Linked DNA regions of Homo sapiens. The protein of the gene in region 1 purifies or fractionates together with the protein of each later gene. This does not show direct contact. Each region holds a gene or a part of one and is shown in the gene's direction. Other genes may lie near its edges. The genes, in order: VSX2, USP33, AHCYL2 and WDR20.

Region 1 (7,030 bases):
TGACCGCCACCTTTTAAAACGGCCTATCCTCACCCCTTAGGCCCTAATAGGTTTTGGCTTGAATGCAGGTGAACTTCGACTTGGTTTCTCCGGATCTCGGTCTATTCTTTTTCCGGCAGCTGTTTGCATTTGTTTAGTTTGTATTGTTTTATTTTAAAAGGAAAAAGAAAAATTTTTTTGGTCTTGATCTTTGGTCTTTTTTTTTTTTTTTTACATTCAATTCATTCAACGAATATTCATTAAAACACTTTTTATGCACCCATCTTACGCGGGTCCCAGGGTGGGTAATCTTGTCATCTTCCCCAGGCAGGGACAGGGACCTTGCAGGGAGGGCAGGTCAGAGACCGGCAAAACTGCCCTTGTGCTGGTGCCAGGAGGGGTGGGAGGGGTTCCCACAGCATGGAGAGCCCTGGAAAAAGCATCCCCAAACCCTGGGTACAGGAATGGCATTTCCGCATCAGGACATCTCACTGCATGGCACTTAGTGACCGTCTGTTTTCATCTGTCACTCTCTTCGCCAGGAACACCTTTGGGGGTTTTGGTGGGTTTTCATGGGGGCAGAACAGCAACTCACCAACACTCGGGTATTAACTGCCTGGGGTTTCTATTTCTGTTGCATGAAGGGAGAAGGTTATTGGAGAGAGGAGAATGGCTACGGATTTCAAGTGCTTGTTTTAATTAGGAAAAAATACATTTTACTCGAGCTTCTGTCATTTGGGGATTTGGGGTAAGAGACCCTGGAATCTGGTGATGAGAGATGGGCTTATTTTTATCTCCCAGAAACAAACCAGACTTAAAAGCGTTTGGGGGGTGGCGTGGGGACAAAGCAGCCACGGTGAGAGTCTCTCTGATTTTGCTCTTTCTCTCTACTGGGAAAGCTCAGCTCCTCTTCAGACTGGACACAACAGGAGCCTGAAGGGTCTGGGGTTCTGCATAAACCAGGAACACAGGCTGGGTCACATTATGGGGGAAGTGTGTCAGCTCTGAGGCATGAATTAGGGAAAGTTTGGGAGATTTGAGTTTTTGTTTTGTTTTTTGAAGAGGGGCTCTCCGAAGTAGGGACTGAGACTTGAATGGTTCTACATGACCTATAATCGGCTCTCCTCTTTGACTGCCTTTGTGCCTCAGTTTCCCTGGTTTTGGAAAGGACTTGAATTTCTTTATTGTTTATTTTGATGCTCTGTCCATGGGCCCTTCAGCAGATGGCAGAAGCGAAAAAGCAGCAGATCTTCAAAATTCTCAAGAATTAACTTCGTGTGTGCATAAGCATTTCACATCATCACCCCCCACCCCCAGAGAATAGGAGAAACGATTTAGAATCAAACCAGTCATTTTCTGCAAAGAGCACAATCTTTCTTCCCTGAATTATCCCCCGAGATATTAAAGTGGACACCAGCACAAGGATTGTGTGAGGTTCAAATCTGTACTTTTGGGTTGTGTTAGACGAGGGTGAGGGCCCAGCAATAAGGGATTCTACACCCCTGTGCTGGCGCCAGAGTCTGATCCCAGGGGACCAGGCAAGGGCTGGACCATTTCTACCAGTTCAGTTTGTGGACGCTGGACTATATTGCCTGTTGGCTTGTTAATGAGGTTTCAGGATAAAGACCACCCAAAACCTGGTGAAATTAAGGTTTGAAAAGAGAAGAGTTTGTGTCTGGAAGTAGGTGTTTAGCGGTTTATTCAAGAAAGAGGACCTATGAATCCCCTAATGTTGGAGGCAAAATTTTACAAATTGGGGCCTATTTATTTGCCCATTTTCCTAAGGTGAGAGAATGTAGTTTTTACCAGATTCTTAAAGCAGTTTATAACACAAAATAGATCCATATGAACTGCTCTGTTGGGGGTGGGGAACTGTGCCTGTGGGCTCTCAGGGTGGCCCGAATGGAACCCCCTGCAGGTGAGTGGCTGAGCTTGCAAGTATGGGATGGTTGGAAGGTGGCCCTTCCCTTGTCAGCACAGAATAGGACTGGAAAAGGCTCGGGGCAGTGCTGGGAGGCTGGTAGGTCTGGGTGATGTCGAGGAAGGGCAGGGGAGGAGGAAGGGGTGCTGGGGGGAGTTGAGGGAGTGGGAGATTCAGTTCTCTGCTGTATAAACACTGAGGTTGAGGCTGCATTTGACCTTCCGGTGAATCTTCTAACTTTGAAAGGCATTCAAAAATTCAGCTCTAGTGACTGTGAGAGGGGCCCAGGAAGCTGGTCTGGGTGGAGCTGGGCTATTTAGTAATCTGGTAAGCCCCTCTTCTCTGTGCTTGGGAGGAAGAGGGGCTTTCTGCTTTTCTAGAATGTCCTTCTTCTGGGACAGCCTTTCCCCCAGAGCACCTCCAGAAAGATTCCCAGTGTGAAATGTCACTGAGGGCTGAAATAATGGCCACCCCCCAAACACAGGAAGGGTAGTGTGAGCCCTCAGCCTTGAGGAAGAAGAGTCCGGAGGGTTAAACTATGAGACAGAGAGAGAGAGAAAGTGTGTGTGTGTGTGTGTGTGTGTGTGTGTGTGTGTGTGTGTGTGTGTGAAAGAGAGAGAGAAAGTGTGTGTGTGTGTGTGTGTGTGTGTGTGTGTGTGTGAGAGAGAGAGAGAGAGAGAGAGAGACAGAGAGAGAGAGAGAGAGAGAATTTGTGTCCTATTGTGCTGAGCCAGCCTGGGTTCGGGGCCTGCCCAGGAGACACAGAGGAAGGCGGTTCTGTCTTGTCTGAGACAGGCTCTTTTAGTTTCTGGGGTCCTGAGTGTTCGGTCTTGCTCCCCTCAGGACAATCTTTACCTCCTACCAGCTAGAGGAGCTGGAGAAGGCATTCAACGAAGCCCACTACCCAGACGTCTATGCCCGGGAGATGCTGGCCATGAAAACGGAGCTGCCGGAAGACAGGATACAGGTAACAGCCCTGAGCCCCTCTCCCCTCCACTCTCCCCTCTCTCGGTGACATCTACCACTCCAGGGTTCCAGATGCCCATGACCCCGCCTCCCAGCCCCACTGTGGGCATGTGCTTGCCTATGATCATGTTCTCAGCCTATTTAAGCTGAACACCTGCCACATGAGGTGGGTGCTGTCGGGGGATGAGAAGCACCCAGTTGTGACCTGGCTGTTGTTCCAGACTATAGGCTTCCCGGGGAGTATGTCAGACAGACCCTGCGGGGGTCTGGGGATGAGAGGTGGAGTACTGGAGGGGCCCCCGGTCCTGGGCAGGGTCTCTGTTGAGGCGGAGGTCCCTTTGGTACAGCTAAATGTCTGTTCCAAGGCCAGAGGGTGCCCCAGGCCTCTGGGTAGCTGTGAAGAGGAAGGTGGCTTCTAGTCCTGACCCCAGTCTGTTTCCCTCCCCTCTCCTCCCCTCCCCATGATGAAAGTGTTACCCCTTCTCTTCCTGCTTCCCACCACTCCATCCACCTAAGGCTCCTTCCTCCCACACACAGCCCAGCAACTGCTGCCCTGACCTGCTGCTCCTTTTCTTCTCCCAGGTTTGGCCTAGGATGTGAGCTGGGGCATGGCCCTGCAGGTGGCTCACTAAGCCCTCCTCCTCTCCTGGGCAGTTTTGTGGCATAACTAGCCACTGATCTGGGCATGTGGTAGGCATGGGGCCTCCACTTAGCGGCAGCAGGACCTTGGCAAGTCCAGAGTCCCCTACTTGGGCAGGAGTAGGGCTGTGGAATCATTTCTCTGGGGGAGGATGGAGTCTGGGCAGGGCCTCCATGAGGCAGAAGGAGTGGGGTGGGAGGAACATTTCCAGAAGATTTGGGGTTGTCTTAGCTGGTGCTCAACCTTCAATGAAAGCTGCTCCCATCGCCTGAGCGGTCCAGAGCTAGTTCATTGCGGAGGCTGGGGTGTGTGGGCCAGGGGCTGGTCCTGACTTCCTGGAACTGCTCTGCTCTGCGTCTCCTCCCCAGTCTAGGTTCCTTGTATCTCCAGGTGTGATGTGTGCCTGGGAGGCCGGGGGAGCCAAGTAAGGTGTGTGGGTTGCTCTGTACTCTCTCACTGGAGGACCAGAGAATGTGAAATGAGGCTGTGAGGCCTTCCTCTCCCCTGGAAATCTATTTGGAATTTCAGCCGATGGTTTTAGACATTGACACTAACAATAAGCTCAATTATTCATAAGCAGATTATGTTTGGTGCATTATCCATGGGGGCCTGGACCCATTACCCTCCACCCAATTGGGTTCTTGTGAGGTAAGCTGGGCGTTGATGTTGAATTGTGTGTGTGCACGTGTGTGCGTGTGTGTAAGCCAAGCCTTAAACTGCACGGCAGTAACCCCTGCCTGGCCTTCATTAGCATAAAGTTGGCCATTCCAGGTGGCTGCGGCAGGGAGGAGCAATGACAAATCCCCGCTGTTGGCAGGCCCCACATTTGCGGTATTGACCAGAATGAAGGAATAGCTTGTCTCTTGCAGTGGGTTGTCCTGAAATCTGCTTGGTAGATTAGGTGGGGGAGGGTGGATGAGGTGTTTGAAACCTGCTGAGCTCAGGATTTGGGGGCAGGCTCTCCCTCAGCTGTAACTGCATTGCTACGAATGCCCCAACAGGCACATTTAACTTAACAGGGCTTTGTTAAGTTGCTTGGGGGTTGCCTATAAGGTGGTATCTGAGGGCACCAGAACCAGCAGGAAGGAGCTTGGGGTGTGGGATGAGGAGAGCTCATCGCCCTGGGACTGTGAGGATTGGCTCTGCAATTTGTGGATATCGGAGAAATGAGGAAAGAGTCTCAGAGCCTTTGAGCACCACATGCCTGAATGCTACCCCCAGAAGCTGTCTGTGAGTTGTCAAGTCCTCTTGCCCCAGTTCAGTAAAGTGGCCTGGGAAAGATCTTGGTGTGCATCAATAGCAGTCACAGCGATCGTTTCCAGAGGAGTTTCCATGTGCCAGGTGTTCTCCTGAGTTCACGATGTACACAGGACAGGCAGGGTGGTACCATGGTTAGGGTCACTGACTCTGGGGCCAGACTGGCTGGGCTCCTGGCCGGGCTTCACATGCCAGAGCCTCTCAGTCTTCATCTGTACAATGGGGGTGACAGTGGCACCTGCCTCTTGTGTGGAGGTAATGAGCCATATGTGTGCAGCATTCAGGGCAGTGCCTGGCACGTGCCCCCAGCTCACTCGGTGTCAGATCTGATCTTATTAAGTCCTGGTGACAATCAGGGGCTGAAGACCATGAATTTCCTTTGAGAACTGAGGCAGCTGAGGCACAGCCTCTTGCCCAGGCCCCACAGCTAGTAAGTGGGAGACACAAGACTCAAACCTAACTCTGAATCGAAAGCCCACAGTGGCACTGCCCACCTCTTCTGTTTGAAGTCTTTGCTTTGACTTGAAGCTGGGGGAGCATAGGTGATTTGAAGTCAGGCGGGGGACCTGTATCACAGTAAAGTTAATCAATGTTTATTGAGTACCAGGCACTGTTTAAAAAAAAAAAAACAGCCCAAAACTCACTTATATAACAAAATTATTTTTGAATGGGCAAATTCTGTACATGAATTCAAGAGGGTGAAAAGCAAGTCCTCGCCCTCCCTCGACCAGCAGCCCACCTGTGTCTTTCATTTCCTCACAGAGCTAGTTCATGTATATTCAGCAGAGTCCTCAGAACACCCATGAGCTAGGGGCTATTACTCTCATTTGACAGATGGGGAACCTGAGGCACAGACAGAGGCCAGAGTTGAGTCTCTTTAGACTCCAAAACCCTTGCTTTTCTACCTTGACTTCCCTCCCCATCATTTCCCCTCCACGTGTTGGCCGCCACTCCTGAGCCAGCCCCCTCCCAGCCTAGCTTTGGGTCAGAGGACTCTGCAGGTGAGACGAGCAGGAAAGGGGAAGTTATTACTGGCTCCAAGTCTGGAGTTAGAAATTCTCGGCCACGCAGTGGCTCAGGCCTGTAATCCTAGCACTTTGGGAATCTGAGGTGGGAGGATTGCTTGAGCCCAGCAGTTTGAGACCAGGCTAAAAAAAAAAAAAAAAACAAAAAAAACCAAAAACGAGACCCTGTCTTGGAAGAAAAGAAAAGAAATTCCTGGCCAGGTGCAGGGGCTCATGCCGGTAATCTCAGCCCTTTGGGAGGCTGAGGTGGAAGAATTCCTTGAGTCCAGGAGTTTGAGCCCAGCCTGGACAACATAGTGAAATCCCCATCTCTACAAAAAAAAATTTAAAAATTAGCCGAGCATGGTGATGTAAGCCTGTGGTCCCAGCTACTCAAGAAGCTGAGATGGGAGGACCACTTGAGCCCAAGAGGTAGAGGCTACAGTGAGCTGTAATCGCACCACTGCACTCTAGCCTGGGTGACAGAGTGAGACTCTGTCTCAAAAACAAACGAACAAAAAAAAAAAACAGAGAGAAATTATCAAGTTGGAATGGAAAGGTTATTGAACTGGAGATCAGGAACCCGGATTTTAGCTCCAACTGACATCTGGTGTGGCAGAGGCTAGGCCACTTCCCATCTGTGAGCCTCAGTTTCCCCATCTGTAGAAGAAAGAGGTGAGATCCCTTCCAGGGAGGTGCCTCCTGAGTATTCCCCCACCACAAGCCCCTGGGCTGCCATTGGTAGAATGGGGGTGCAGGGCAGGTTAAGTTTAACAGGCCCAGATGGACCGCTGGAGCATACACCCCTGCTGGGCCAAGCCAAGAAACCCCTGCATGTCTGAAGTCTACTGTCTGATGTCTGATGAGAACCTGCGATGTAGACGCGGAAAGGCAGACACACCTACTTCCAGTCTTTGTTTCACTGCCAGCAAGCCAAACCCTGAGTCTGAAATTACTCATTTGTAAGATAATAATATTTTTTCATAATGCTAACTTAATAAAAACAGTGTTGTTACTGGCATTTATTAAGTACTCACCATTGTCCCAGATATTAAGTGCTTTCCATACCTCGTTTCTTCTCTTTTTCTTCTTTTTTTTTAGAGACAGGGTCTCACTGTGTCACCCAGTCTGGAGTGCAGTGGTGTGATCTCGGCTCACCGAAGCCTCTGCCTCCCAGGCTTAAGCAATTCTCCTGCCTCAGCCTCTTGAGTAGCTGGGACTACAGGTGCCCACCACCATGCCTGGCTAATTTTTGTATTTTTA
Region 2 (7,403 bases), on another chromosome or scaffold:
AAGCCAATAAGCCAGGGAGAAGGGAGAACAAGGTAGAGGAAATGGCAGAGAATTTTTGATATTGCACTGGACAGGATTTTTTTCTAATACTAGGGGCAAAAGGCCACTTTTTTTTATTACTAGAAAATTACTGGAGGACTTTTTTTTTTTTTTTTTCTGACAGAGAGGCTCTTGCTCTGTCACCAAGCTGGAGTACAGTGGCACGATTATAGCTCACTCACTGCAGTCTCAAACTCCTGGGCTCAAGGGATCCTCCTGCCTCAGCCTCTGGAGTAGCTGTACTACAGGCATGTGCCATCGTATCCTGGTATTATTTTTTAAAATTTTTTGTAGAGGCAGAATTTCACTTTGTTAACCAGGCTGGTCTCGAACTCCTGGGCTCAACTGATCCTCCCACCTTGGCTTTGAAAAGTGTTGAATTATAGGCATGAGCCAACACACCTGGCCTGGTGGACTTTTTAATTATGTGACAGTGAGCGGAAAAGCAAAAATGCTTTGCCTAAGATTTGTTTTAAAATATATTTTTCTTTTCTTTCTTTCTTTTTTTTTTGTTCTTGTTTTTGTTTTTTGAGAGACAGGGTCTCACTCCTATTGCCCAGGCTGGAGAGGGGTGGCACAGTCATGGCTCATGACAGTCTTAATTTCCTGGGCTCAAGTGATTCTCTCACCTCACCCTCCATAGTAGCTGGGACTACAGGCATGATCCACCATGCCCGGCTAATTGTTGCAATTTTTTGTAGAGACAGGGTTTCGCCATGTTGCCCAGGCTGGTCTTGAACTCTGGTCTCAAGCAGCCGCAGCTTTCCAAAGTGTTGGGATTACAGGCATGAGCTACTGCGCCCTGCCCAGAAACATATTTTATTTTACTTTGAGACAGAGTTTTGCTCTTGTTGCCCAGGCTGGAATGCAGTGGTGCCATCTCAGCTCACTGCAACCTCCGCCGCCCGGGTTCAAGCGATTCTCCTGCCTCAGCCTCCCGAGTAGCTGGGATTATAGGTACCTGCACCACACCCAGCTAATTTTTGTATTTTTGATAGAGATGGAGTTTCATCATGTTGGCCAGGCTGGTCTCGAACTCCTGATCTCAGGTGATCCGCCCAACTCGGCCTTCCAAAGTGCTGGGATTACAGACGTGAGCCACTGGGCCCGGCCCAAAGACATATTTTAAAGCCCCAGCTTAAATCAGAGTTTCTCAATAGTGGCATTAATGATGTCTGGGACTCTCTTGTAATATCAATGCAAAGGAATGTTACTAATTCTTTCTCCCACCAATCCTCTTCAGAAATATTGCCAACTATCCACTCAGGGGACAAAACCACCCCCAGTTGAGTGCCAACAAGTTTTTGAGTCCTTCAATGCTAGGCTCTGGGAATATTGTGAATAAGATAAATACTCACTGCTCCCATTGAGGAGTTCAGGAGAGACAGGCAAAAAATTAAGTATACCAAAAAATTTAAGATAATTACAAATTATAATACATTCTCTAAAGGAAGCAAGCAGGATGCTGAAACCGGAAATAATGGGGTAAAGAGTTCTGTATTAAACAGAGAATATCTAGGTAGGAGTTAGCCAGGTGAAGGAAGGATAGAGGTTGGGAGTATCTGTAAAATTGTCTCTAAGGAAACAGCATTTACAAAGCTTTATTTAGTCTCAGGTACATAAGCACCAAAATGTATATTTTCTACGTTGCTATTTTTTACTTGCCATTACTCAGTTACAAAAATGAGAAGGTATTTGTTTTTGATAGGACCATTCAATTGTCTTCCTCCCTCCCTGTTTGTATCTCTCCTTCTTTTCTTCTTTTTCTTCCTACTCTTCATTTCTTCTTTTTTCTCCCTTTCATTAGAAGAGACTTCTTTTCTTCTTTTTCTTCCTACTCTTCATTTCTTCTTTTTTCTCCCTTTCATTAGAAGAGACTTCAGTACCTGGCCTGATGCACAACTCTAAGTCATACTATTTACATTATATTCTCCATGAACGGCACCTCTAGAATTCTGTTCCAGAATCAGTATGACTCAGCTGGGTGTCCACACACCCTCTAGAATTCTACTCCAGAATCAGTGACTCAGCTGGGTGTCCACACTTTGGAATGTATAATCTATTCTCTCAAGGGGAAGTTGATTGATTTATTTCCTAATGATAGTGTTCTTCCTTATAAGCCATTATAAGCCATCAGGAGATATTGTTTGAAGAAAAGTAAAAGATAAGCAATCTGGACTGTGGGATGAAAGGATAAACACCCAAGGGTGGGAGGCAGGAATTCACGGAAGTTAAAAGTGGGAGAGGTATTACATTATATTCTATCAGAGTGAGTTTGTTTTGTGAGAACTTGTCCACTGCAAGGACTTCACTTGGTGTCCACCTGAGAAGTACTTGCCTACTATTATCTACGCACTAGTCTCAAACTCCCGATCTCAGGTGATCTGCCCTGCTGGGCCTCCCAAAGTGCTGGGATTACAGGCATGAGCCACCGCACCTGGTGATCTTGAACAGCCTTGTCAGTTGTCTTCCTTGCATTGACACTGCCCTAGAACTCCTCCAGGACAGGTAAGCCCAGAGAGAACCTTGGTTACTAAGCAGGATGGTGGTGGGACTTGGAGGCTGAATTGAATTTGCTAGGACACTGTAAGAACAGAATACCCCTGATACATTTTCAATAGAAGAATTTCTGGGGAAGTGACTTTTGTCTATTTTTCTATTTGGTCGCCTGTTTTTTTAAAAATTGATTTCTGGAAATACATATGGAGTTGAGCCCCTTTTCAATTATATGTATTTCAAATAAATTCTATTTGCTGGCCTAACTTTTCTTCTCTCTCTGTCTCTCTTCTTTTTTTTTCTTCTGTAGATCTCCTCTGTGGACAGCTTTTTTTTTTTTTTTTTTTTTTTTTGAGACAGGGTCCTCCTCTGTTGCCCAGGCTGGAGTTCAGTGGCTCTATCTTGGCTCACTGCAACCTCTGCCTCCTGGGTTCAAGTAATTCTCCTGCCTCAGCCTCCTGAGTGGCTGGGATTACAGGCACGCGCCACCACACCTGGCTAATTTTTGTATTTTTCGTAGAGATGGGGGTTTCACCATGTTGGTCAGGCTGGTCTTGAACTCCTGACCTCAGGTAATCCACCCGCCTTGGCCTCCCAAAATGCTGGGATTACAGGTGTGAGGCTCTGTGCCCGGCTGGAGACAACTTTTCATCTCCTAACGGCATCTTTTTTTTTTTTTCCCAGAGAATATCTCACTTTGTCACCCAGGCTGAAGTGCAGTGGCACAATCATGGCTCACTGCAACCTCAAACTCCTGGTCTCAAGTGATCCTCCACTCTTAGCCTCTTGAGTAGCTGGGACTACAGGTGCCTGTCACCATGCCTGGCGAATTTTTGTATTTTTAGTAGAAATGGGGTTTCGCCATGTTGCCCAGGCTAGTCTCGAACTCAAGTGATTCACCCGCCTCGGCCTCCCAAAGTGCTGGGATTACAGGCATGAACCATGGCGCCTGCCTGTGAAACTTCTATTCTGTGAAATTTCTATTCTCCTCAGTGAACCGAGGATAGGCAATCATTTGTGGTGCAAATTGAGGCCTGAGTGTCAATCCCTACCTAGAATTTTGTATCATGGTTAATTTATTTCATTTTTACCATAAAAATAAGTAGAAGCTTTTATATTTTCTACCTATTCCAATGGAGACTGAGCATCTTGCATGATACTTTGGTACATGCTCCCATTTTGGAGACCAAAAAGTCAGATGTCATGAGACAGATTGAAACTGGCAATTTTAACAATTTTTTATTAATATAACCTTTTTTATTCATAGATTTGAACCTCAATCGAGTGCATTTTAACAGTTACATAATTAGAAGGCAGGACTCCTTCCATGCTCCAGGCATTAAGCAGATACTAAGGTTTCAATAAATATTTGATTTGATCCTCTTGATTTTAGCCTAAGGAGAAAATGGTGAGATAAATTTCTTCTTTGCATAGGTGGAAAAGGGAAACATAATTGCTTTCAGAGAATCTAGGTCCTAAGAAGTTGGGGGAAGAAAGATGAAAGGAGGAAATACAATGTTGAATTGGGATAAGTTAAGTCTAATATTTCTTTGCTCAAGTTTGGAAACCTGAGGCCCTTCAGTGGCCAGCCTTAATGCAGTTTTTGTAATGCATCGAGACAAGACCTTATAATGGTCGTAGTGTGTGACTGTGAAAGAGAAGGAGAAAACATGTGAAAAACGAAAAAAAAAAAGCTCACAGCCTCAAACTGCTGCACATACCCTGTACAGTTAGTTTGCAGTCAGAGTAGGGAGCCGGCCTGGGTCCCCGCACCTGGGCCTGGCTCCCGTGGCCCCGCCCCTGGGGCGGGCTCCCATCGAGGCTCCGCCCCCACCTCCCCTATCGCCGGAGACGCCTGCGGCGGCCCCGGAGACACCGGAAGGAGCCGCGGCTGCTGCGGGAAGTGGCCAGTTCAGGAGGCGGACCCCCCGAGGGCAGCGCTGCGGGGCCGTTTTCCGGCCCTCCTGACGCGACACTGCCCCTCTCCGAGAGCTGAGAAGGAAAAGAGGAGCTTGCGGAGGTGCGGCTGCAGGCCGTTGTTGGTCGAGCTGGCGGGTCCCGCGGGCCAGGCCGTGGAGGTGAGCGCGGCGCTGCTGGGAGGGGCGCGGGGCCCAAGGGCGTTTCGCTCGCGTCCGGGGTCCGGTCTCTGTTCTCGCTTCCGCGCGCTGGGGTTGCGGCCGCTGCAGCAGCCTCTTTTTCTTGGTCCTGGGTGGCGGCGGGTTCGCGGGCGGGAAGAAGGCCTTGGCCCCTCGGTGCTCTGCGTTGCAGAGATAATCTAGTGGTCGCCCTGTCAACGGTCGGTGGAGGATGGGAACCGGTCGTTGATTTGAGGAAGGGTCCTCAGGGGTTCTTCCCTGGAAGCGGGAGGTGCAGGTGAGCCCGAGAAGCGGGGGCTCTGCTCCCTTCCTCGGTCTCCCCACTCAGGCTTGCCAGTCCCTCTCAGTGGGTGACTGAAAGCCCTGCAGCGCGCCGGCTCCTGGGTTCTGGTTTCGCTTTTCGGCGCTGTTGAGGGGGCCGGCCCCGTTGTTTGTTGTTGTGAACGGAAAAACCGAGGTGTCATCGTCCCTGGAATTTTTCTTCGACCAATGTTTGATCTTGACTGAGAGGTTACCCCTTACCTTCTGTCCATCTGCAGCCTTTGTTTGGATGAAAGATCCATAGTGTGTGGTTTCCCAGACCTTTACTTATATTTCTCGTATACAAAACGCTCTTCATTTGAATATTTACAGGGTTTTACGTTGAGCTCTTGGACGATGAGATTTTCCTGGGTGTTTTGCACTCAAGTACCGTTGGAGTTTACATTCTCATAGAATCAGTATTAGGCCTGGAAAATTGAGCCAGAGGGTGAAATTCTGGCAGGAGCATAGACTTAAATTGAAGGTGAATTTTACCGTAACGATCTCTAGGCCTTTTGCTTAATAACTATGTGGATGTAGAGAATTTTTAAGTTTAATCAGATTATTTTTCCTTTAAGAAAAACGTGTTACAAAAAGTAACAAGGCCGTCCTAGTTCCGTTTTTCCTACTGTCTTATTTGGAAAGGTCTGACCAAGTCACATTATCGTCATAGGCTATTTGATTTGAGCATAATACAAATATTGTTAGTGAATTCATACTATTATAAATAAGAGAGAAAATAGGAATCTTAAAGACAATGCTAGTTTTATGAAAAAATAATAGAAATAGTTACACAATGCTAGGAGCTTTGTATTATTTCATTACTTTGGCAGGATTGAAAGAAAGGTCAGGGCTGGGCACGGTGGCTCACGCCTGTAATCCCAGCACTCTGGGAGGCCGACGATCACGAGGTCAGGAGATCGAGACCATCCTGGGTAATACGGTGAAACCCCGTCTGTACTAAAAATTACAAAAAATTAGCCGGGCATGGTGGCAGGTGCCTGTAGTCCCAGCTACTTGGGAGGCTGAGGCAGGAGAATGGCGTGAATCCGGGAGGCAGAGCTTGCAATGAGCCGAGATCATGCCACTGCACTCCAGCCTGGGCAGCAGAGCGAGACTCTGTCTCAAAAAAAAAAAAAAAAAAAAAAAGGACAGTACAAAAAATATTATTGGAATAAAATATTTGACCTGATATGTGCAAGAGGGATAGTCTACTTAAGATTGCTTCCTATTTATGATCTGGTTTATGGCCAGTTTCACTTTTTTTCTGTCTTTTCTGAACTTTTTATAACTTAACAGTAAGCAAGTCTTTTTATATAACTGCAGTTTAATGACATTAGATTGTAGTAAATAGGTGATTTTAAATATTTGAAATTCAGAATTGAGATGATAATTCTTACATTTATGTAGTAGTATTAGAATTTTCTGTGACCTTTCACTTACACAGTCTTACTTGATCCTCATGCCAGTCCTCTGAGCTCCGAATGCCAAGAAATAAAGTCTTTCCCCATGACAGAAACATTTCAAGATTGTGTAAGGATCAGAATTTCGTAAAGCCTGAAATAATGTTGCCAAAGCAGCTTTTGATACAGATTGGGAATTCAGATAGATTAAGATTGGAGCACTGTGAACTATAACATATGACAAGACTGTGGACTCTTCACAAGAAAATGAAGTACATAAAATGCTGAAAGATTTTTGGTGAGAAATGTGAAATGTAACCATTTCTAAAAAGGAAGGGAATAAGTAACAGCTCTATTTAGTGTAGTTTTTAAACTTTAAAAGTGTACATGTGTCTGCAGGAACATTTTGATAAGTGGGAAAACTCCAAAGAGTGTGAGATGAGTACAGTTGCTTTTAACTATCTATAAAAAGGCACATGAATTATGTGCTATATTGTATACTGAGAACTAGTCTTTAAGAAACAATATGTATATCAAAATAAATCATGCTGTCAAATGTTCAGAAGGTTAAGTTAGGTCAATATTTTGAGTCTACCAGGACAAGGCCCTTTGGAAAACAAAAAGAATGAAACGTGGTTTCTGCCTTCAAAGAACTTGTAGTCAAGTGAGGCAATTTTTTACACAACAGTAAATGCCTTATGAGTTTTTATAAAAGTTCCTTAGGAATTTAGGTGAGGTAGACATTACTTGTGATTGGGGCTTGGTGAAGGTAGTATTTGAGATGAGTGAGCTTTGAAAGGTAAATATTGGAGGATATTTGTAATGTGAACAGATTAATGAGCTCCTTGAAGGGTACAACTTACATTTGAGAAAACATCGGTAGAACAATGTGGCTGATATTCATAGTTTATGTAAGTTAATAATAGATAAAGAAGACAAATTATGAAAGACTTCACTGAAGGTGTTTGATCAGAAGAGGTATGTGATCCACATGAAAGGAAAATGAGCTGTAACTGTTAGAAGATTGAGACTGGAAGACTGCTGGGGTGGCTTTATGTTAAGCTAGATT
Region 3 (7,030 bases), on another chromosome or scaffold:
TACCTATAGTAGATTCAAGATCTAGTGGCCTAGTAACTACAAGTTACCAATCCATAAGAAAATCCTCGGTTAGTTGCTGTATATTTTGATACAGTAGATATGTCACGGGGAGGGTCGTTTGGCTGCGCGAATTACAATTGGCCTTTCTCCTCTCATTGTCTTTTACTTCAATATAATGACTATTTGGCAGATTATTGTATTTACTCTGGCTTTAAGTTACTTTGCATAACCATATGGGAAATTTTAAATATCTGTAAATTGCTAATTAGATTGGGATGCAAGACCCAGAGAAGCACTGAAGCCTTGAGACTTCAGCAAAGTGAATGATGTTATTGATGCTTACTATTGCAGATCTTGGATGATGGAGGGGATCTTACCCACTGGATTTATAAAAAGTATCCCAACATGTTTAAGAAAATCAAGGGCATAGTAGAGGAGAGTGTTACTGGAGTTCACAGGTAAGATTTGACATGGGCATACCTGGTTTTATGCAGTCTAGACATAAAATCTTATAAACACATACCTATAAAACACATGTTAAAAATTGGAGCCTGGGCCAGGCGCGGTGGCTCACGCCTGTAATCCCAGCACTTTGGGAGGCTGAGGTGGGCGGATCACGAGGTCAGGAGATCAAGACCATCCTGGCTAACACGGTGAAACCCCGTCTCTACTAAAAATACAAAAAAATTAGCCTGGTGTGGTGGGCGCCTGTGGTCCCAGCTACTCGGGAGGCTGAGGGAGGAGAATGGCATGAACCCAGGAGGCGGAGCTTGCAGTGAGCAGAGATCATGCCACTGCACTCCAGCCTGGGTGACAGAGCGAGACTCCATCTCAAAAAAAAAAAAAAAAAAAAAAAAAAAAAAATTGGAGCCTGCTATGAGGTAACCACATCTCAGCTTGCTATGAGGTGACCAGATCTCAGCTTGCTATGAGGTGAGCAGATCTCTCTTGTTTTTTTTTTTTAATTAACAACACAAATAATGAACCTAAAATAGTGAGAAGGGGGCAGGTGGGAGAACAAGTGAAGTCCTCATGTTTTCTAGTGATTGTAAACAATTAACTTGTCCTTTTTGGACACATATATTCATTCATTCATTCAACAAATATTTATTGAACTTCTACAATGAATGAGGAACTGCTCTAGATGCTAGGAATCTAGCAGTAGACAAAACAGACAGAAAAAAACTCTGCCATCTTAGAGCTTACATTCTTACATGGAGAGCAAGGATGTAGGGTTCTGCTTCTCAAATGAGTAATAATTCTCTGAGTAAAATTGGAATTATTTCAGTTCAATTTCTGTGATCATTTCTATGATTTATTTCACCCATAAAGAACTAAAAGTATGAAAAAAAAAAGTTGTAGGGAAGTAAATTCTGAACCAGCCACCATCACTGCTTCAATACATTATCATCTTTTTGAATGTACAAAACTGAGGTCAGGAGTTCAAGACCAGCCTGGCCAACGTGGTGAAACCCCGTCTCTACTAAAAATACAAAAATTAGCTGAGTGTGGTGGCGGGCGCCTATAATCCCAGCTACTCAGGAGTCTGAAGCACAAAAATCGCTTGAACCCTGGAGGCAGAGGTTGCAGTAAGCTGAGATCACACCATTGCTCTCCAGCGGGGACAACAAGAGTGAGACTCCATCTCAAAACAAACAAACAAACAATAAAAGCACAAACAGCCAGGCGTAGTCTCATGCACTTGTAGTTCTGGCAGGCAGGGAGACCAGTGCAGATTTAGTGAACATTGTACCTAGTAGGTAATTTTTCAACCTTCAACCCGCTCCCACTCTCCCACTTTTTATAGTCTCCAGTGAAGGCCTTAAAATTTAGAGGTGGGTCAAGGATTTCCCCCACATGACTTTTGAATAAAATCTTTATTGTGAAGCTATATATGCAGGCTCTAGAAAGATATTCTTTATTTCTCAGTGGCCACCTAACAGGATGAAACTAGTCATGTCTCATGGTCTCATGCCTACCCAATCAACGTATTTCTGGGGCCTCCTATGAAAGCAATGGTAGATTGTAATGTCCTGGTGTTTTTTGTTCTTGGCTTCCCTCATCCTCAGGCTGTACCAACTGTCCAAAGCTGGGAAGCTGTGTGTTCCAGCCATGAATGTCAATGACTCAGTCACCAAACAGAAATTTGACAACCTCTACTGTTGCCGTGAATCAATTCTTGATGGGTAATGTTTATTATCTTTGAGATGAAGTTGTGATGTCCAGTTGAGATTCTAAGTTTTTTGGCTTTGGTTATTTCTGGAAAGGATTCATGTAGCACCTCTGGATAATGTCTCCATAAAGCCAGAGCTTTGTCACCTCATAAATTAAAATTACATTATTTTTATTTTCTCCTTTGTATCTTTTCTATTTCTAAATATTATATTTTCAAAATATTATCTAATAAATGTATGTTGCTTTTATGTTTAAAAGTTACTGTGTTATCTACATCTTCTTCCTTTCTGCACCACTTGCAAGAAAGGGGAAAAAAAAAGGAAAAAAACCCTTACATATAGGATTGGTTAGATGGCAGGGAGTGAGAAAATATGTATTTTATTTAACCTTCCTGTCTGGTCATTAGTTTCTCTAGGATAGAAACCAGACTTTCAGTGTTACAGGTCTTTTAGAATTTGTCTAGCAGGTTTTCTGGTCTTTACCAGAAAACCCCTTTAAAAAAATAAAGAAACCAGACTTTCTTTCAAAATGAAAAACCAACCAAAAAACCCCATGAAAACAAAGAGATTCAATCTAACCTCAAGGGAGAAACAAGAGAAGATTTTTCTGATTTAATGTTTTTTTTTCCCCTAGACTTAAAAGGACAACAGACATGATGTTTGGTGGAAAGCAAGTGGTAGTCTGTGGCTATGGAGAGGTGAAGTTTAACCTTTTGTTTATTAGGTGTTTTAAATGGATTTTGTTGAAATATTCTGGAATTTTTTATTTGTATGGACATATGAGTACACCCTTTACCACTTTAGATGAGAAAAAGAATTTCAGAGGCCTTCTGGTTGAAGTAGACTTTCTTTTTCCCTTTGCGTTGCCGCCATTTTCCCTTAAGTTGATTTTCTGACTTGCTCCAGTACCACCGTTTGTGATGTTCTTTTTAGCTTGTGTTTTAATTATGAATCGTGAGTGTGGGTGTTCTTGTGCACATGAATGCGATAAGCAGGAGCCAGGGGTTTGTTTATGAGCTGCATTCAATTATTTGTTCTTCTCGTTTTCCCCAAGTATGAATCTATTCAGTGAAATTCCTCTCGGGGGTGGAAAGAGGGGGTGCACTTTACCAGAAGCTTTGAGAAATGGTTTTCTCAGTGACTTTCCTTAATATGTGTGCTCTCTCCCCTCTTCAGGTGGGGAAAGGGTGCTGTGCTGCCCTGAAAGCCATGGGCTCCATTGTGTATGTAACTGAAATTGACCCCATCTGTGCCCTGCAAGCCTGGTAAGCCTCTACGCTACCATCTCACTTGCAATCTCGGAGCTGTCTCCAAAGAATGGCCTGGTTGATGCCACACTTTATTTTAGAGGAGCCCAGATCCTCAGAGATGCTGCCACTAACTCTAAGCATCTGTCTTTTAAAAAGGTCAAGGAGCTCTGCTTGGAGAGAGCAGAGACTATCAGAAAAGCGAAAATTTAGAAATCCTGTGGAGATAGTAACAGGGATTCTGTCAGCCAGAGAACAGGTAGCCCCTTACCTTCTCCATGTATGATACTTGCCTTTCAAATAATGATCAGAAAAGAAATTGGCAGGCATCAGATGCCTTCTGATGTGTTACACTGAAAATAGCCCTTCTGTGGTATTCCTCCCAAAAATGTATAACCTGAATCTAATTGTGAGGAAACATTAGACCAATCCCAGTTAAGGGTAAAATCTACTAACTCTGAGTGAAGCATATATGAGAATTATTTACACTAGTATTATAATTCTTAAGTTTGAAATGATTCTAAAATTAAAAGTTAAAACTTTTCTTATCTATAAAATGTGTGTAATCATACCTACCTCATAGGATTGTGAGAGTTCAGTAAAATAATAATTAGCATAGGCTGGGTGTAATGGGTTCATGCCTGTAATCCCAGCACTTTGGGAGGCTGAGGCAGGAGGATTGCTTGCGCCCAGGAGTTCGAGACCAGCCTTGGCAACATAGGGAGACCCCATCTCTACAAATAATTTTTTTAAATTAGCTGGGTGTGGTGGTGCATGCCTGTGGTCCCAGCTACTTGGGAGGCTGAAGTATGAGTATCACCTAAGCCTGGGAGGTGGAGGCTGCAGTGAGTTGTGATTATGCCACTACGCTCCAGCCTGGGTGACCCAGCAAGACCATGTCTCAAAATAATTATTATTCTATATTATACATTATATAACAAATACATAATTATATAAGGTACAGAGCTGCTGCCACATAATATATGCTCATTAAATAATAGCTGTTATTAAAATTGTCTCTTGCCATCCTCAGCAGGGTGGGAAATACCACTGTTCTTAAAAACTATTGCAGAGTCCAAGTGTCTGTAGCCTAGGGGAACCATCATCCTTCTGGTACACTAAGAGTTTAGGAACCTGAACATATTTTAATACAAATTGATACTGTTCAGATACTGAACAGTTCAGATTATCCTGTTCAGATTATCCTGTAGACACGAATTGATCACTTACTATGCATTAGATACTGTGCTATGTGCTGAGAATGAATAAGATGAATATATAAATGAGATAAGGTCCTGCTTTTAGAAGCACACAGACAGATAACCACTGTGCAGCAAAGTAAGTGCTGTCATGGAGTTAAACGGCACATGCTTCTGTAGGAGCATAAAGGAGAAATTGCTTACTGAAGAGCAAGGGAGCAGGGTAGAAAGAGATGTCAGCAGAGCTGAGTCTTGACATTTGTATAGGTGTTTTCTTAGTTTGGAAGTATATTCCAGGTACTGGGAACATGTGTGTTGTCTCCAAGGAAGGAGATAGCATGGCAGATTTAAGAAGCTAGAAATATTTTAATGTAGTTGGCAGATGAAATACATTTGGGGGAGTGGTACTATCTAAGGTAGGAGTCATGGGAGTCATATGTCAATATAATCACATATCACTGTAAGTATTTGGGTCTTACTCTTATCCTGTCTTATCCTTAAGAACAGGCAGTCTCACTGAAGTATTTTAAGGAAAGGAAGCGACATGATCCAAATTGCATTTAGGAAAATCACTCTGCCAAATGATTTAGAAAGATGTAAACCTAGAGGCAATGAGATTGGGCCAGGGGTTACTATAGTAATCTAGGCAAGAAGTAATAAGACCTAAACTTAAGCAAGGCCAGTATGTATTAGAGAAGAGTAGAGAGATGAAAGAGACGTTTATGGAATTAAAGAAAAAGAGTCACCCAGATTTGGTGACAACTTCAATTCAGGAGAGGCAGCAAGGACATTCTTGTTTATATGGCTCATTCAGTTGGATGAACAGTGATGCTATTGATCAAGATAGAAAATATAGAAGAAGAAATAGATGAGATTATGGGTGCAGAGAAAATAATAAGTTTATTTTCAAACACAGTAAGTTTGAGATCCTTCTGGGACATTGATGAGGTGCTATCCAGTGGCTAATTTGATCCTTGGCTATGAAGCTTCAGAGAGATCTAAGCTAAAGTTACAAATGTAAAAATCAGCCATCTATCAGCAGTCATTTGCAGCCAAAGGAAGAGTATGGTTCTCTATACTGAAAGAATAGAGAAAAGAATAAAGGCATAACCCTGCAGAGCACCAATATCCAAAGGTTGGCTGAAGTTGAGGAGAGGCAATTAAGAGAAGTAAGAGGAAAACCAGGAGAGATGTATCATGGAGTCCAAGGGGTATAGAGTTTTAAGAAGGCAAATAATGTTTAATGTAGTAGAAGAAATCAAATAATATAAGAGTCTAAGAAGTTGGGCATGGTGGTGTATGCCAATAGTCCTGGCTACTCAGGAGGCTGAGGCAGGAGGATTGCTTGAGGCCAAGAGTTAGAGGCTGTAGTGCACTATGATTATGCCTGTGACTAGCTACTGCACTCCAGCCTGGGCAGCATAGTGAGATCCCATCTCTAAAAAAAAAAAAACACACACAGTTAAGAGTCTAAGAAATCTTGGGTTTGGCCTTCGGGGGATCACTGATGATCTTGGAGAGAGCAGTTTCAATGGGGTAGTTGGTTAAATGGCTAAGTGGCACTTTCTACAGTTTCTAGAAATTTGGTCAGGGAATCTCATGGTAGCCCCTGGCTCCCTATTATCAGGAAGAAATAAGTTCCGTGATGCAAACGAACCTTTTATTTCTGTCTTGTATGAACTAAGGAAATTGTTTGGATTTTTCACTTCTAAGAATAGTTCAGCTATCTCAAGAAATGACAGCAACTTGATATTAGCTTTTGAAGTCCTGTGTTAAAAGGCTCCCCAGCTGCCTGTTTAGGTTAATGGGTCATGCTTTATTTCAACAGTATGGATGGATTTCGACTGGTGAAATTAAATGAGGTCATCCGACAAGTGGACATTGTTATTACCTGTACAGGTATGATAATGACATTTTAAATGGGGTGGCACTTGGGAATGTTTTTATGGAGCAGGTGCAAGATGATTGGAAATATTCTGAAAAACCAAACTCTAAAAGCTAGAGAGAGATAGTAGCCCACAAAGCCAGCCAGTCTTTCACATTCTTCCTAATTCTTTAGAGCTCCGACCAAAGGTATACGATTAGGTTATTCCTATGTAAAAATGTTTCTCTTCACCCTTGAAGACAACTGTTATATCTCCATTCATCCTAGGAGATAGCTAGAGATGAGATTCACTTATAAAGTTTTATTTGGGAAGCCAGATATTTTTTTTTTCCAAAAATATATTTATTTTTAAAAACAGAAAATCAGATCAGTTTTATAGAGTCAAATTTTCAAGAGACAAACCAGAGTTTGGATTCCAGCTTAGAGTGCAAGTGAAGCATCAGTAATCTCATGCAGAAGATTTGTCTCTGCAGGAGGTACATTCTGCTTGACTGCAAGCACTCAATTCTCTAAATCTGGTTTGTA
Region 4 (5,161 bases), about 28 Mb from region 1:
AGTAACATTTAATTAGGCCCCCACAGGGGGATTGAAGTAGATTGGCACAGGATGTTATCTGTAAGTTACATCCATGTGTCTACTTAGGGTCGTCTCAGTGCACTGTTTTTTTTTGTTGTTGTTTCTTTTGAGATGGAGTCTGACTTTGTCGCCCAGGCTGGAATGCAATGACGTGATCTTGGCTCACTGCACACAGCCACCGCCTCCTGGGTTCAAGTGATTCTCCTGCCTCAGCCTCCAGAGCAGCTGGGATTACAGGTTCGCACTACCATGCCCAGCTAATTTTTGTATTTTTAGTAGAGACAGGGTTTCACCATGTTGGCCAGGCTGGTCTCGAACTCCTGACCTAAAGTGATCCACCCTCCTCGGCCTCCCAAAGTGCTGGGATTACAGGCGTGAGCCGCCGCGCCTGGCCACAGTGCAGCTTCTTAATACGGGAGTGAAGGTTTTTAATGTGTTTTGTCATTGCAGTAACATTTATTTTTAATGGTGCTATAAATGCTGTTCATACCTCACTATTGCAAAGCAATACTGTTTTTACTTGATCATACTAGTTTTTGAGTTCTCATGCAGTTTTTTGTTGTGTTTTTTAAGGCCCAAAATAAAATTTACTCCTAACCGTGCTGCTAGAAGTTTTTATGTCCTGAAATTTCTCCACACATGGTAAATAGAGTAACAATGAAGTGATCCTAGAAAAACTGGGATTTGATTTGGTTCTGGTGAAATGTAAGGTGCAGGAATTGGGAGCCACTGTACCAAAATCAGGACAGCAGTCTGGCTTCCCAGGCCTGAGTTAGCTGGTGTAGGCCTGCCTGACAAGGCCAGTGATGGAGCGAGCTGCAGACACCCTTAGGCCCTGGGCGATCAGGTACAGTTGTGTTTGTGGGATCAAGAGTGCTGGGGTAGTCTGGGCCCAGTGGGCACAGCAAGGTCTGGCAGAGCTGTGATGGGGGAGTGGAGGCCTCTTAATCCACCGTTCACCATCCCATCATCCTTGCACCTCCCTCCACCATCAAAAAAAAGCCCTGCTCTGGCCATGTAAATTATCTCTGTAACCCCTTGCTGAGAAAATTGCACGAAGGTCTAATGGAAATCCTGCCAGAGCAGCGCTGGGTTTTAGGTTGTTGGCATTAGTGCAGGTCAGGTGCTGTTTATAGGTAGGTCACCAGGCAGGAGGATAAAGAGGAGGTGGGGGATGAAAATACTGGCTGTGTCCCCAAGGCTGGCTTGCCACGTGCCTATTAATTTAAGAGGACCAGCCATGCCGTTTTACGGCAGTAAGCAGTGACACCTGCTGCTGAGTAACTGCCCAATGCATGGTCCCCAGCCCTGGGCCCGCATGCTGTGTGGCGTTCAGGCCTCCGTTCTTCCTGCCTGGGGTCCTTTGTTAGCAGCCTACTTTCTAGGGTCTAATGTTCATGCAGTGAGCTTGCATGGCTCATTAATTTCTTTCCCAGCCGTTCTTTTAAAAATCAAGTCGTCTTATTTCTGTAATTCTCTGTAAAGATGTAGCACACATGGCGGGCACATGGCCTCAAAGCCACCCTGGCAGAAGTCGGCATGTTTCTTGGCAGATTCTGCCCCTGTGTGCCCAGTACCCCTCTGAGACTTGAGTCAGGGACTCCCCACCTGTTAGGTGAAGCGGTGGTGTTCAACTTACCTGGGGCTGCTGGGCTCCTAAAGGGACACTGTTACTGGGGCGATGGTGCAGTGGAGAGCACTTGGCAGTAGGAGCTTCTAGGTAGAACTTGGGAGTCTTGGGACTTCTGGATGTGTTCTGGTGATGCGATTTTGCGCTCAGACGGTCCAGAAAGGGACCGCCCCTGTGGAAGGTGTTGCGCTGGCATCCCCATCACAGGATTGATTGGCAAGCAGGGAAAGAGACTTGTGCCTTTGGTGGGGCAGGTATTTTTGCCCTTCGTTATTTGGGTTTTAAAGGCAAGACTACTGACATACGCCTGTTAAAGAAACATCTCGGTCAGGGGTCCAAAGTTAGCATATGGAGCAGAGTGATGGTAATGAGACACACACTCCCGAATGAATCGTCAGTGTATCTCTCTCAACACCAGCAGAGAGGGTTTCGAGGAGATGCTTATGGAGATGCACGTGGGGCGGTGCATGGGAGTGAGGCGGCCTCAGTGGGCCCAGGCTCTGTTTTGGAGTTGTGTGTGCTGCCAGCCATGGACTGTGGATTTCACTCCCCACCTTCGAGCCGCCAGAGCAGAGGGGCAGATGGAACCAGCCCATTACCTACAGTGACAGTAAAGGCAGAGGAACCCGTGAGGGTGAGGCAGAGCCCTCCTGGCTGTGAGGACTCACAGGCTTCACCTGCAGGTCCTCGTAGAGGGGATACCACATGCAGATGCAGTGACCCCCAGATTCAGATGCACCTACTGTCAAGGAAGAAAGATCCCAGCAGGGCTGTTCCCTCCGCAGTGAACCCTGTGCCTGGCATCGTGTCTGGCACTTAGTGGCCCCTCTGCAAATATCTGTTGGCTGCCTGACTCCCTCCGTGAAAGCCAGCAGCCTAACACCGATTTTAGAAAGTAATTCTAAATTACCCCAAAAGGGCCAAAACGCTCCTTGCTGGCTTGGCTGACTGCAGGATAAAATGTGGAGGGCCTGGATAGACTTGCCCCTTCCCATCGAGAAGCACACAAGTTTTCTTGCTGGAAAAGTAGACCTTTGAGACTTCTCCGTTGTGCTAACTTGTTCTCCTTTGTCTTCACAGAGACTAATAGACAAGTCACGAGTTACCTGTGTCAAATGGGTTCCCGGTTCGGAAAGCCTTTTCCTAGTAGCCCACTCGAGTGGGAACATGTACTTATATAATGTGGAGCACACTTGTGGCACCACAGCCCCCCACTACCAGCTTCTGAAGCAGGGAGAGAGCTTTGCCGTGCACACTTGCAAGAGCAAATCCACGAGGAACCCTCTCCTTAAGTGGACGGTGGGCGAGGGGGCCCTCAACGAGTTTGCTTTCTCCCCAGATGGCAAGTTCTTAGCGTGCGTGAGCCAGGACGGGTTTCTGCGGGTGTTCAACTTTGACTCAGTGGAGCTGCACGGTACGATGAAAAGCTACTTTGGGGGCTTGCTGTGTGTGTGCTGGAGCCCGGATGGCAAGTACATCGTGACAGGTGGGGAGGACGACTTGGTGACAGTCTGGTCCTTTGTAGACTGCCGAGTAATAGCCAGAGGCCACGGGCACAAGTCCTGGGTCAGTGTTGTAGCGTTTGACCCTTATACCACTAGTGTAGAAGAAGGTGACCCTATGGAGTTTAGTGGCAGCGATGAGGACTTCCAAGACCTTCTTCATTTTGGCAGAGATCGAGCAAATAGTACACAGTCCAGGCTCTCCAAACGGAACTCTACAGACAGCCGCCCCGTAAGTGTCACGTATCGGTTTGGTTCCGTGGGCCAGGACACACAGCTCTGTTTATGGGACCTTACAGAAGATATCCTTTTCCCTCACCAACCCCTCTCAAGAGCAAGGACACACACAAATGTCATGAATGCCACGAGTCCTCCTGCTGGAAGCAATGGGAACAGTGTTACAACACCCGGGAACTCTGTGCCGCCTCCTCTGCCACGGTCCAACAGCCTTCCACATTCAGCAGTCTCAAATGCTGGCAGCAAAAGCAGTGTCATGGACGGGGCCATTGCTTCTGGGGTCAGCAAATTTGCAACACTTTCACTACATGACCGGAAGGAGAGGCACCACGAGAAAGATCACAAGCGAAATCATAGCATGGGACACATTTCTAGCAAGAGCAGTGACAAACTGAATCTAGTTACCAAAACCAAAACGGACCCTGCTAAAACTCTGGGAACGCCCCTGTGTCCTCGAATGGAAGATGTTCCCTTGTTAGAGCCGCTGATATGTAAAAAGATAGCACATGAGAGACTGACTGTACTAATATTTCTTGAAGACTGTATAGTCACTGCTTGTCAGGAGGGATTTATTTGCACATGGGGAAGGCCTGGTAAAGTGGTAAGTTTTAATCCTTAATGCTGCACCAGATCTAGAACTTGAATAGGTAGTGACTTTTTTCTTTTTCGTGGGAGGGGTGGGGTGTACAATGAATGTGAATGACACTTCTTATTCTTAATGTAAATCTCAATGCATCAGAGCCATAATTTTGGATACTGCATGCCATGTAATTCTGAATCATTTGATAATTTACCTTAGAGCATTTAAAAAAATATAATCAAACTAATTGCCAGCCAAGTCAGTCATCCTCCTGGGAGTATATAGAGTCCCAAGGTTAGCGCTCCTGTATTAGACTATTTCAATTTTAGGAAAATCATGACCATGTGGGGAAACAATGACTTTAAAATGCTGAAATTAAAATTTATGCTTTAACTGGAATATTTTTTGCTTAACTACTCAATTAGAATATTGTACACCTGATCAATGTGTGTTCAGCACAGATGGCCATGAATTGTCATTTATAGTCCAATTTTTTATCTTAATCATAAAATGTTTAGGAATCTATGAAATTTAACTTTAGGAACAAAACGTTTAGCAGGGTTGATTGATATTATTTTTACATTGTTCTGGCAATCCACAGAAAGAGAAGAGCCTTAATTTTTAAAACCCATTTTAGTCATTTTATGACAATTAAAGTTGTTTAATAAACATCTTTTTTCAAAGAAGCAGTTTGTAGCACTTTGATTGAGGTTCTGTGTACTAAGATACCCGTACCTCACTCAGAGCCTGACAGTTCGTGGGAACTGCGGGCCGAGGACGCCAACAGCATTGCAGAAGTGCCTCTTGCCACATAAGCGAAGACCTTTTCTTCAGATGCACTTTGCTTGTGTGTTTTCCCAACAAGGGAAAAGGAGTTTTTTGGTTTTTTGCCGGGGGCGGGGAGGTGCGGTGGGGGAGGGGGATTGGGTCAGAAAGGCACGTGACTCCTCCGCGCTTTGTTTCGTAAAGCCTGAGACTCCCCGAGTCTTCCGACTTCTCCCTGACATGGCCCTCGTTTGGGCTTCGTCCCCCGCAGAGGAAGCGGAAGTGCAGGTTTCCCCTCTCCTTGTTCTTGGATGGCAGCTGTGGTTCCGGGATTACTCTTGGGATGCTGACGCTGGCCATGTGCGTAGGCTTCGTCCTCAGTGGCTCCCACCCTAGCGCCTCAGCCCAGGACCTGGTGGCCTGTGG

What was found.
Region 2: the proteins of VSX2 (region 1) and USP33 purify together in Homo sapiens (affinity purification with mass spectrometry; 3 studies listed by BioGRID and IntAct, with this or other methods). This does not show direct contact.
Region 3: the proteins of VSX2 (region 1) and AHCYL2 purify together in Homo sapiens (affinity purification with mass spectrometry; 3 studies listed by BioGRID and IntAct, with this or other methods). This does not show direct contact.
Region 4: the proteins of VSX2 (region 1) and WDR20 purify together in Homo sapiens (affinity purification with mass spectrometry; 3 studies listed by BioGRID and IntAct, with this or other methods). This does not show direct contact.

The regions. Positions count from the first base shown.
Region 1 is NC_000014.9:74,242,422-74,249,451, forward strand, and holds part of VSX2 (visual system homeobox 2), read left to right. Parts: intron 1-2,743; coding exon 2,744-2,867; intron 2,868-7,030.
Region 2 is NC_000001.11:77,756,853-77,764,255, reverse strand, and holds the start of USP33 (ubiquitin carboxyl-terminal hydrolase 33), read left to right. Parts: upstream 1-4,403; 5' UTR 4,404-4,613; intron 4,614-7,403. UniProt on the Homo sapiens protein: Deubiquitinating enzyme involved in various processes such as centrosome duplication, cellular migration and beta-2 adrenergic receptor/ADRB2 recycling.
Region 3 is NC_000007.14:129,403,028-129,410,057, forward strand, and holds part of AHCYL2 (adenosylhomocysteinase 3), read left to right. Parts: intron 1-351; coding exon 352-458; intron 459-2,069; coding exon 2,070-2,186; intron 2,187-2,808; coding exon 2,809-2,872; intron 2,873-3,350; coding exon 3,351-3,439; intron 3,440-6,448; coding exon 6,449-6,519; intron 6,520-6,830; exon of another isoform or gene 6,831-7,030. UniProt on the Homo sapiens protein: May regulate the electrogenic sodium/bicarbonate cotransporter SLC4A4 activity and Mg(2+)-sensitivity. On the contrary of its homolog AHCYL1, does not regulate ITPR1 sensitivity to inositol 1,4,5-trisphosphate.
Region 4 is NC_000014.9:102,205,872-102,211,032, forward strand, and holds the end of WDR20 (WD repeat-containing protein 20), read left to right. Parts: exon of another isoform or gene 1-2,731; coding exon 2,732-4,009; 3' UTR 4,010-4,656; downstream 4,657-5,161. UniProt on the Homo sapiens protein: Regulator of deubiquitinating complexes. Activates deubiquitinating activity of complexes containing USP12. Anchors at the base of the ubiquitin-contacting loop of USP12 and remotely modulates the catalytic center of the enzyme.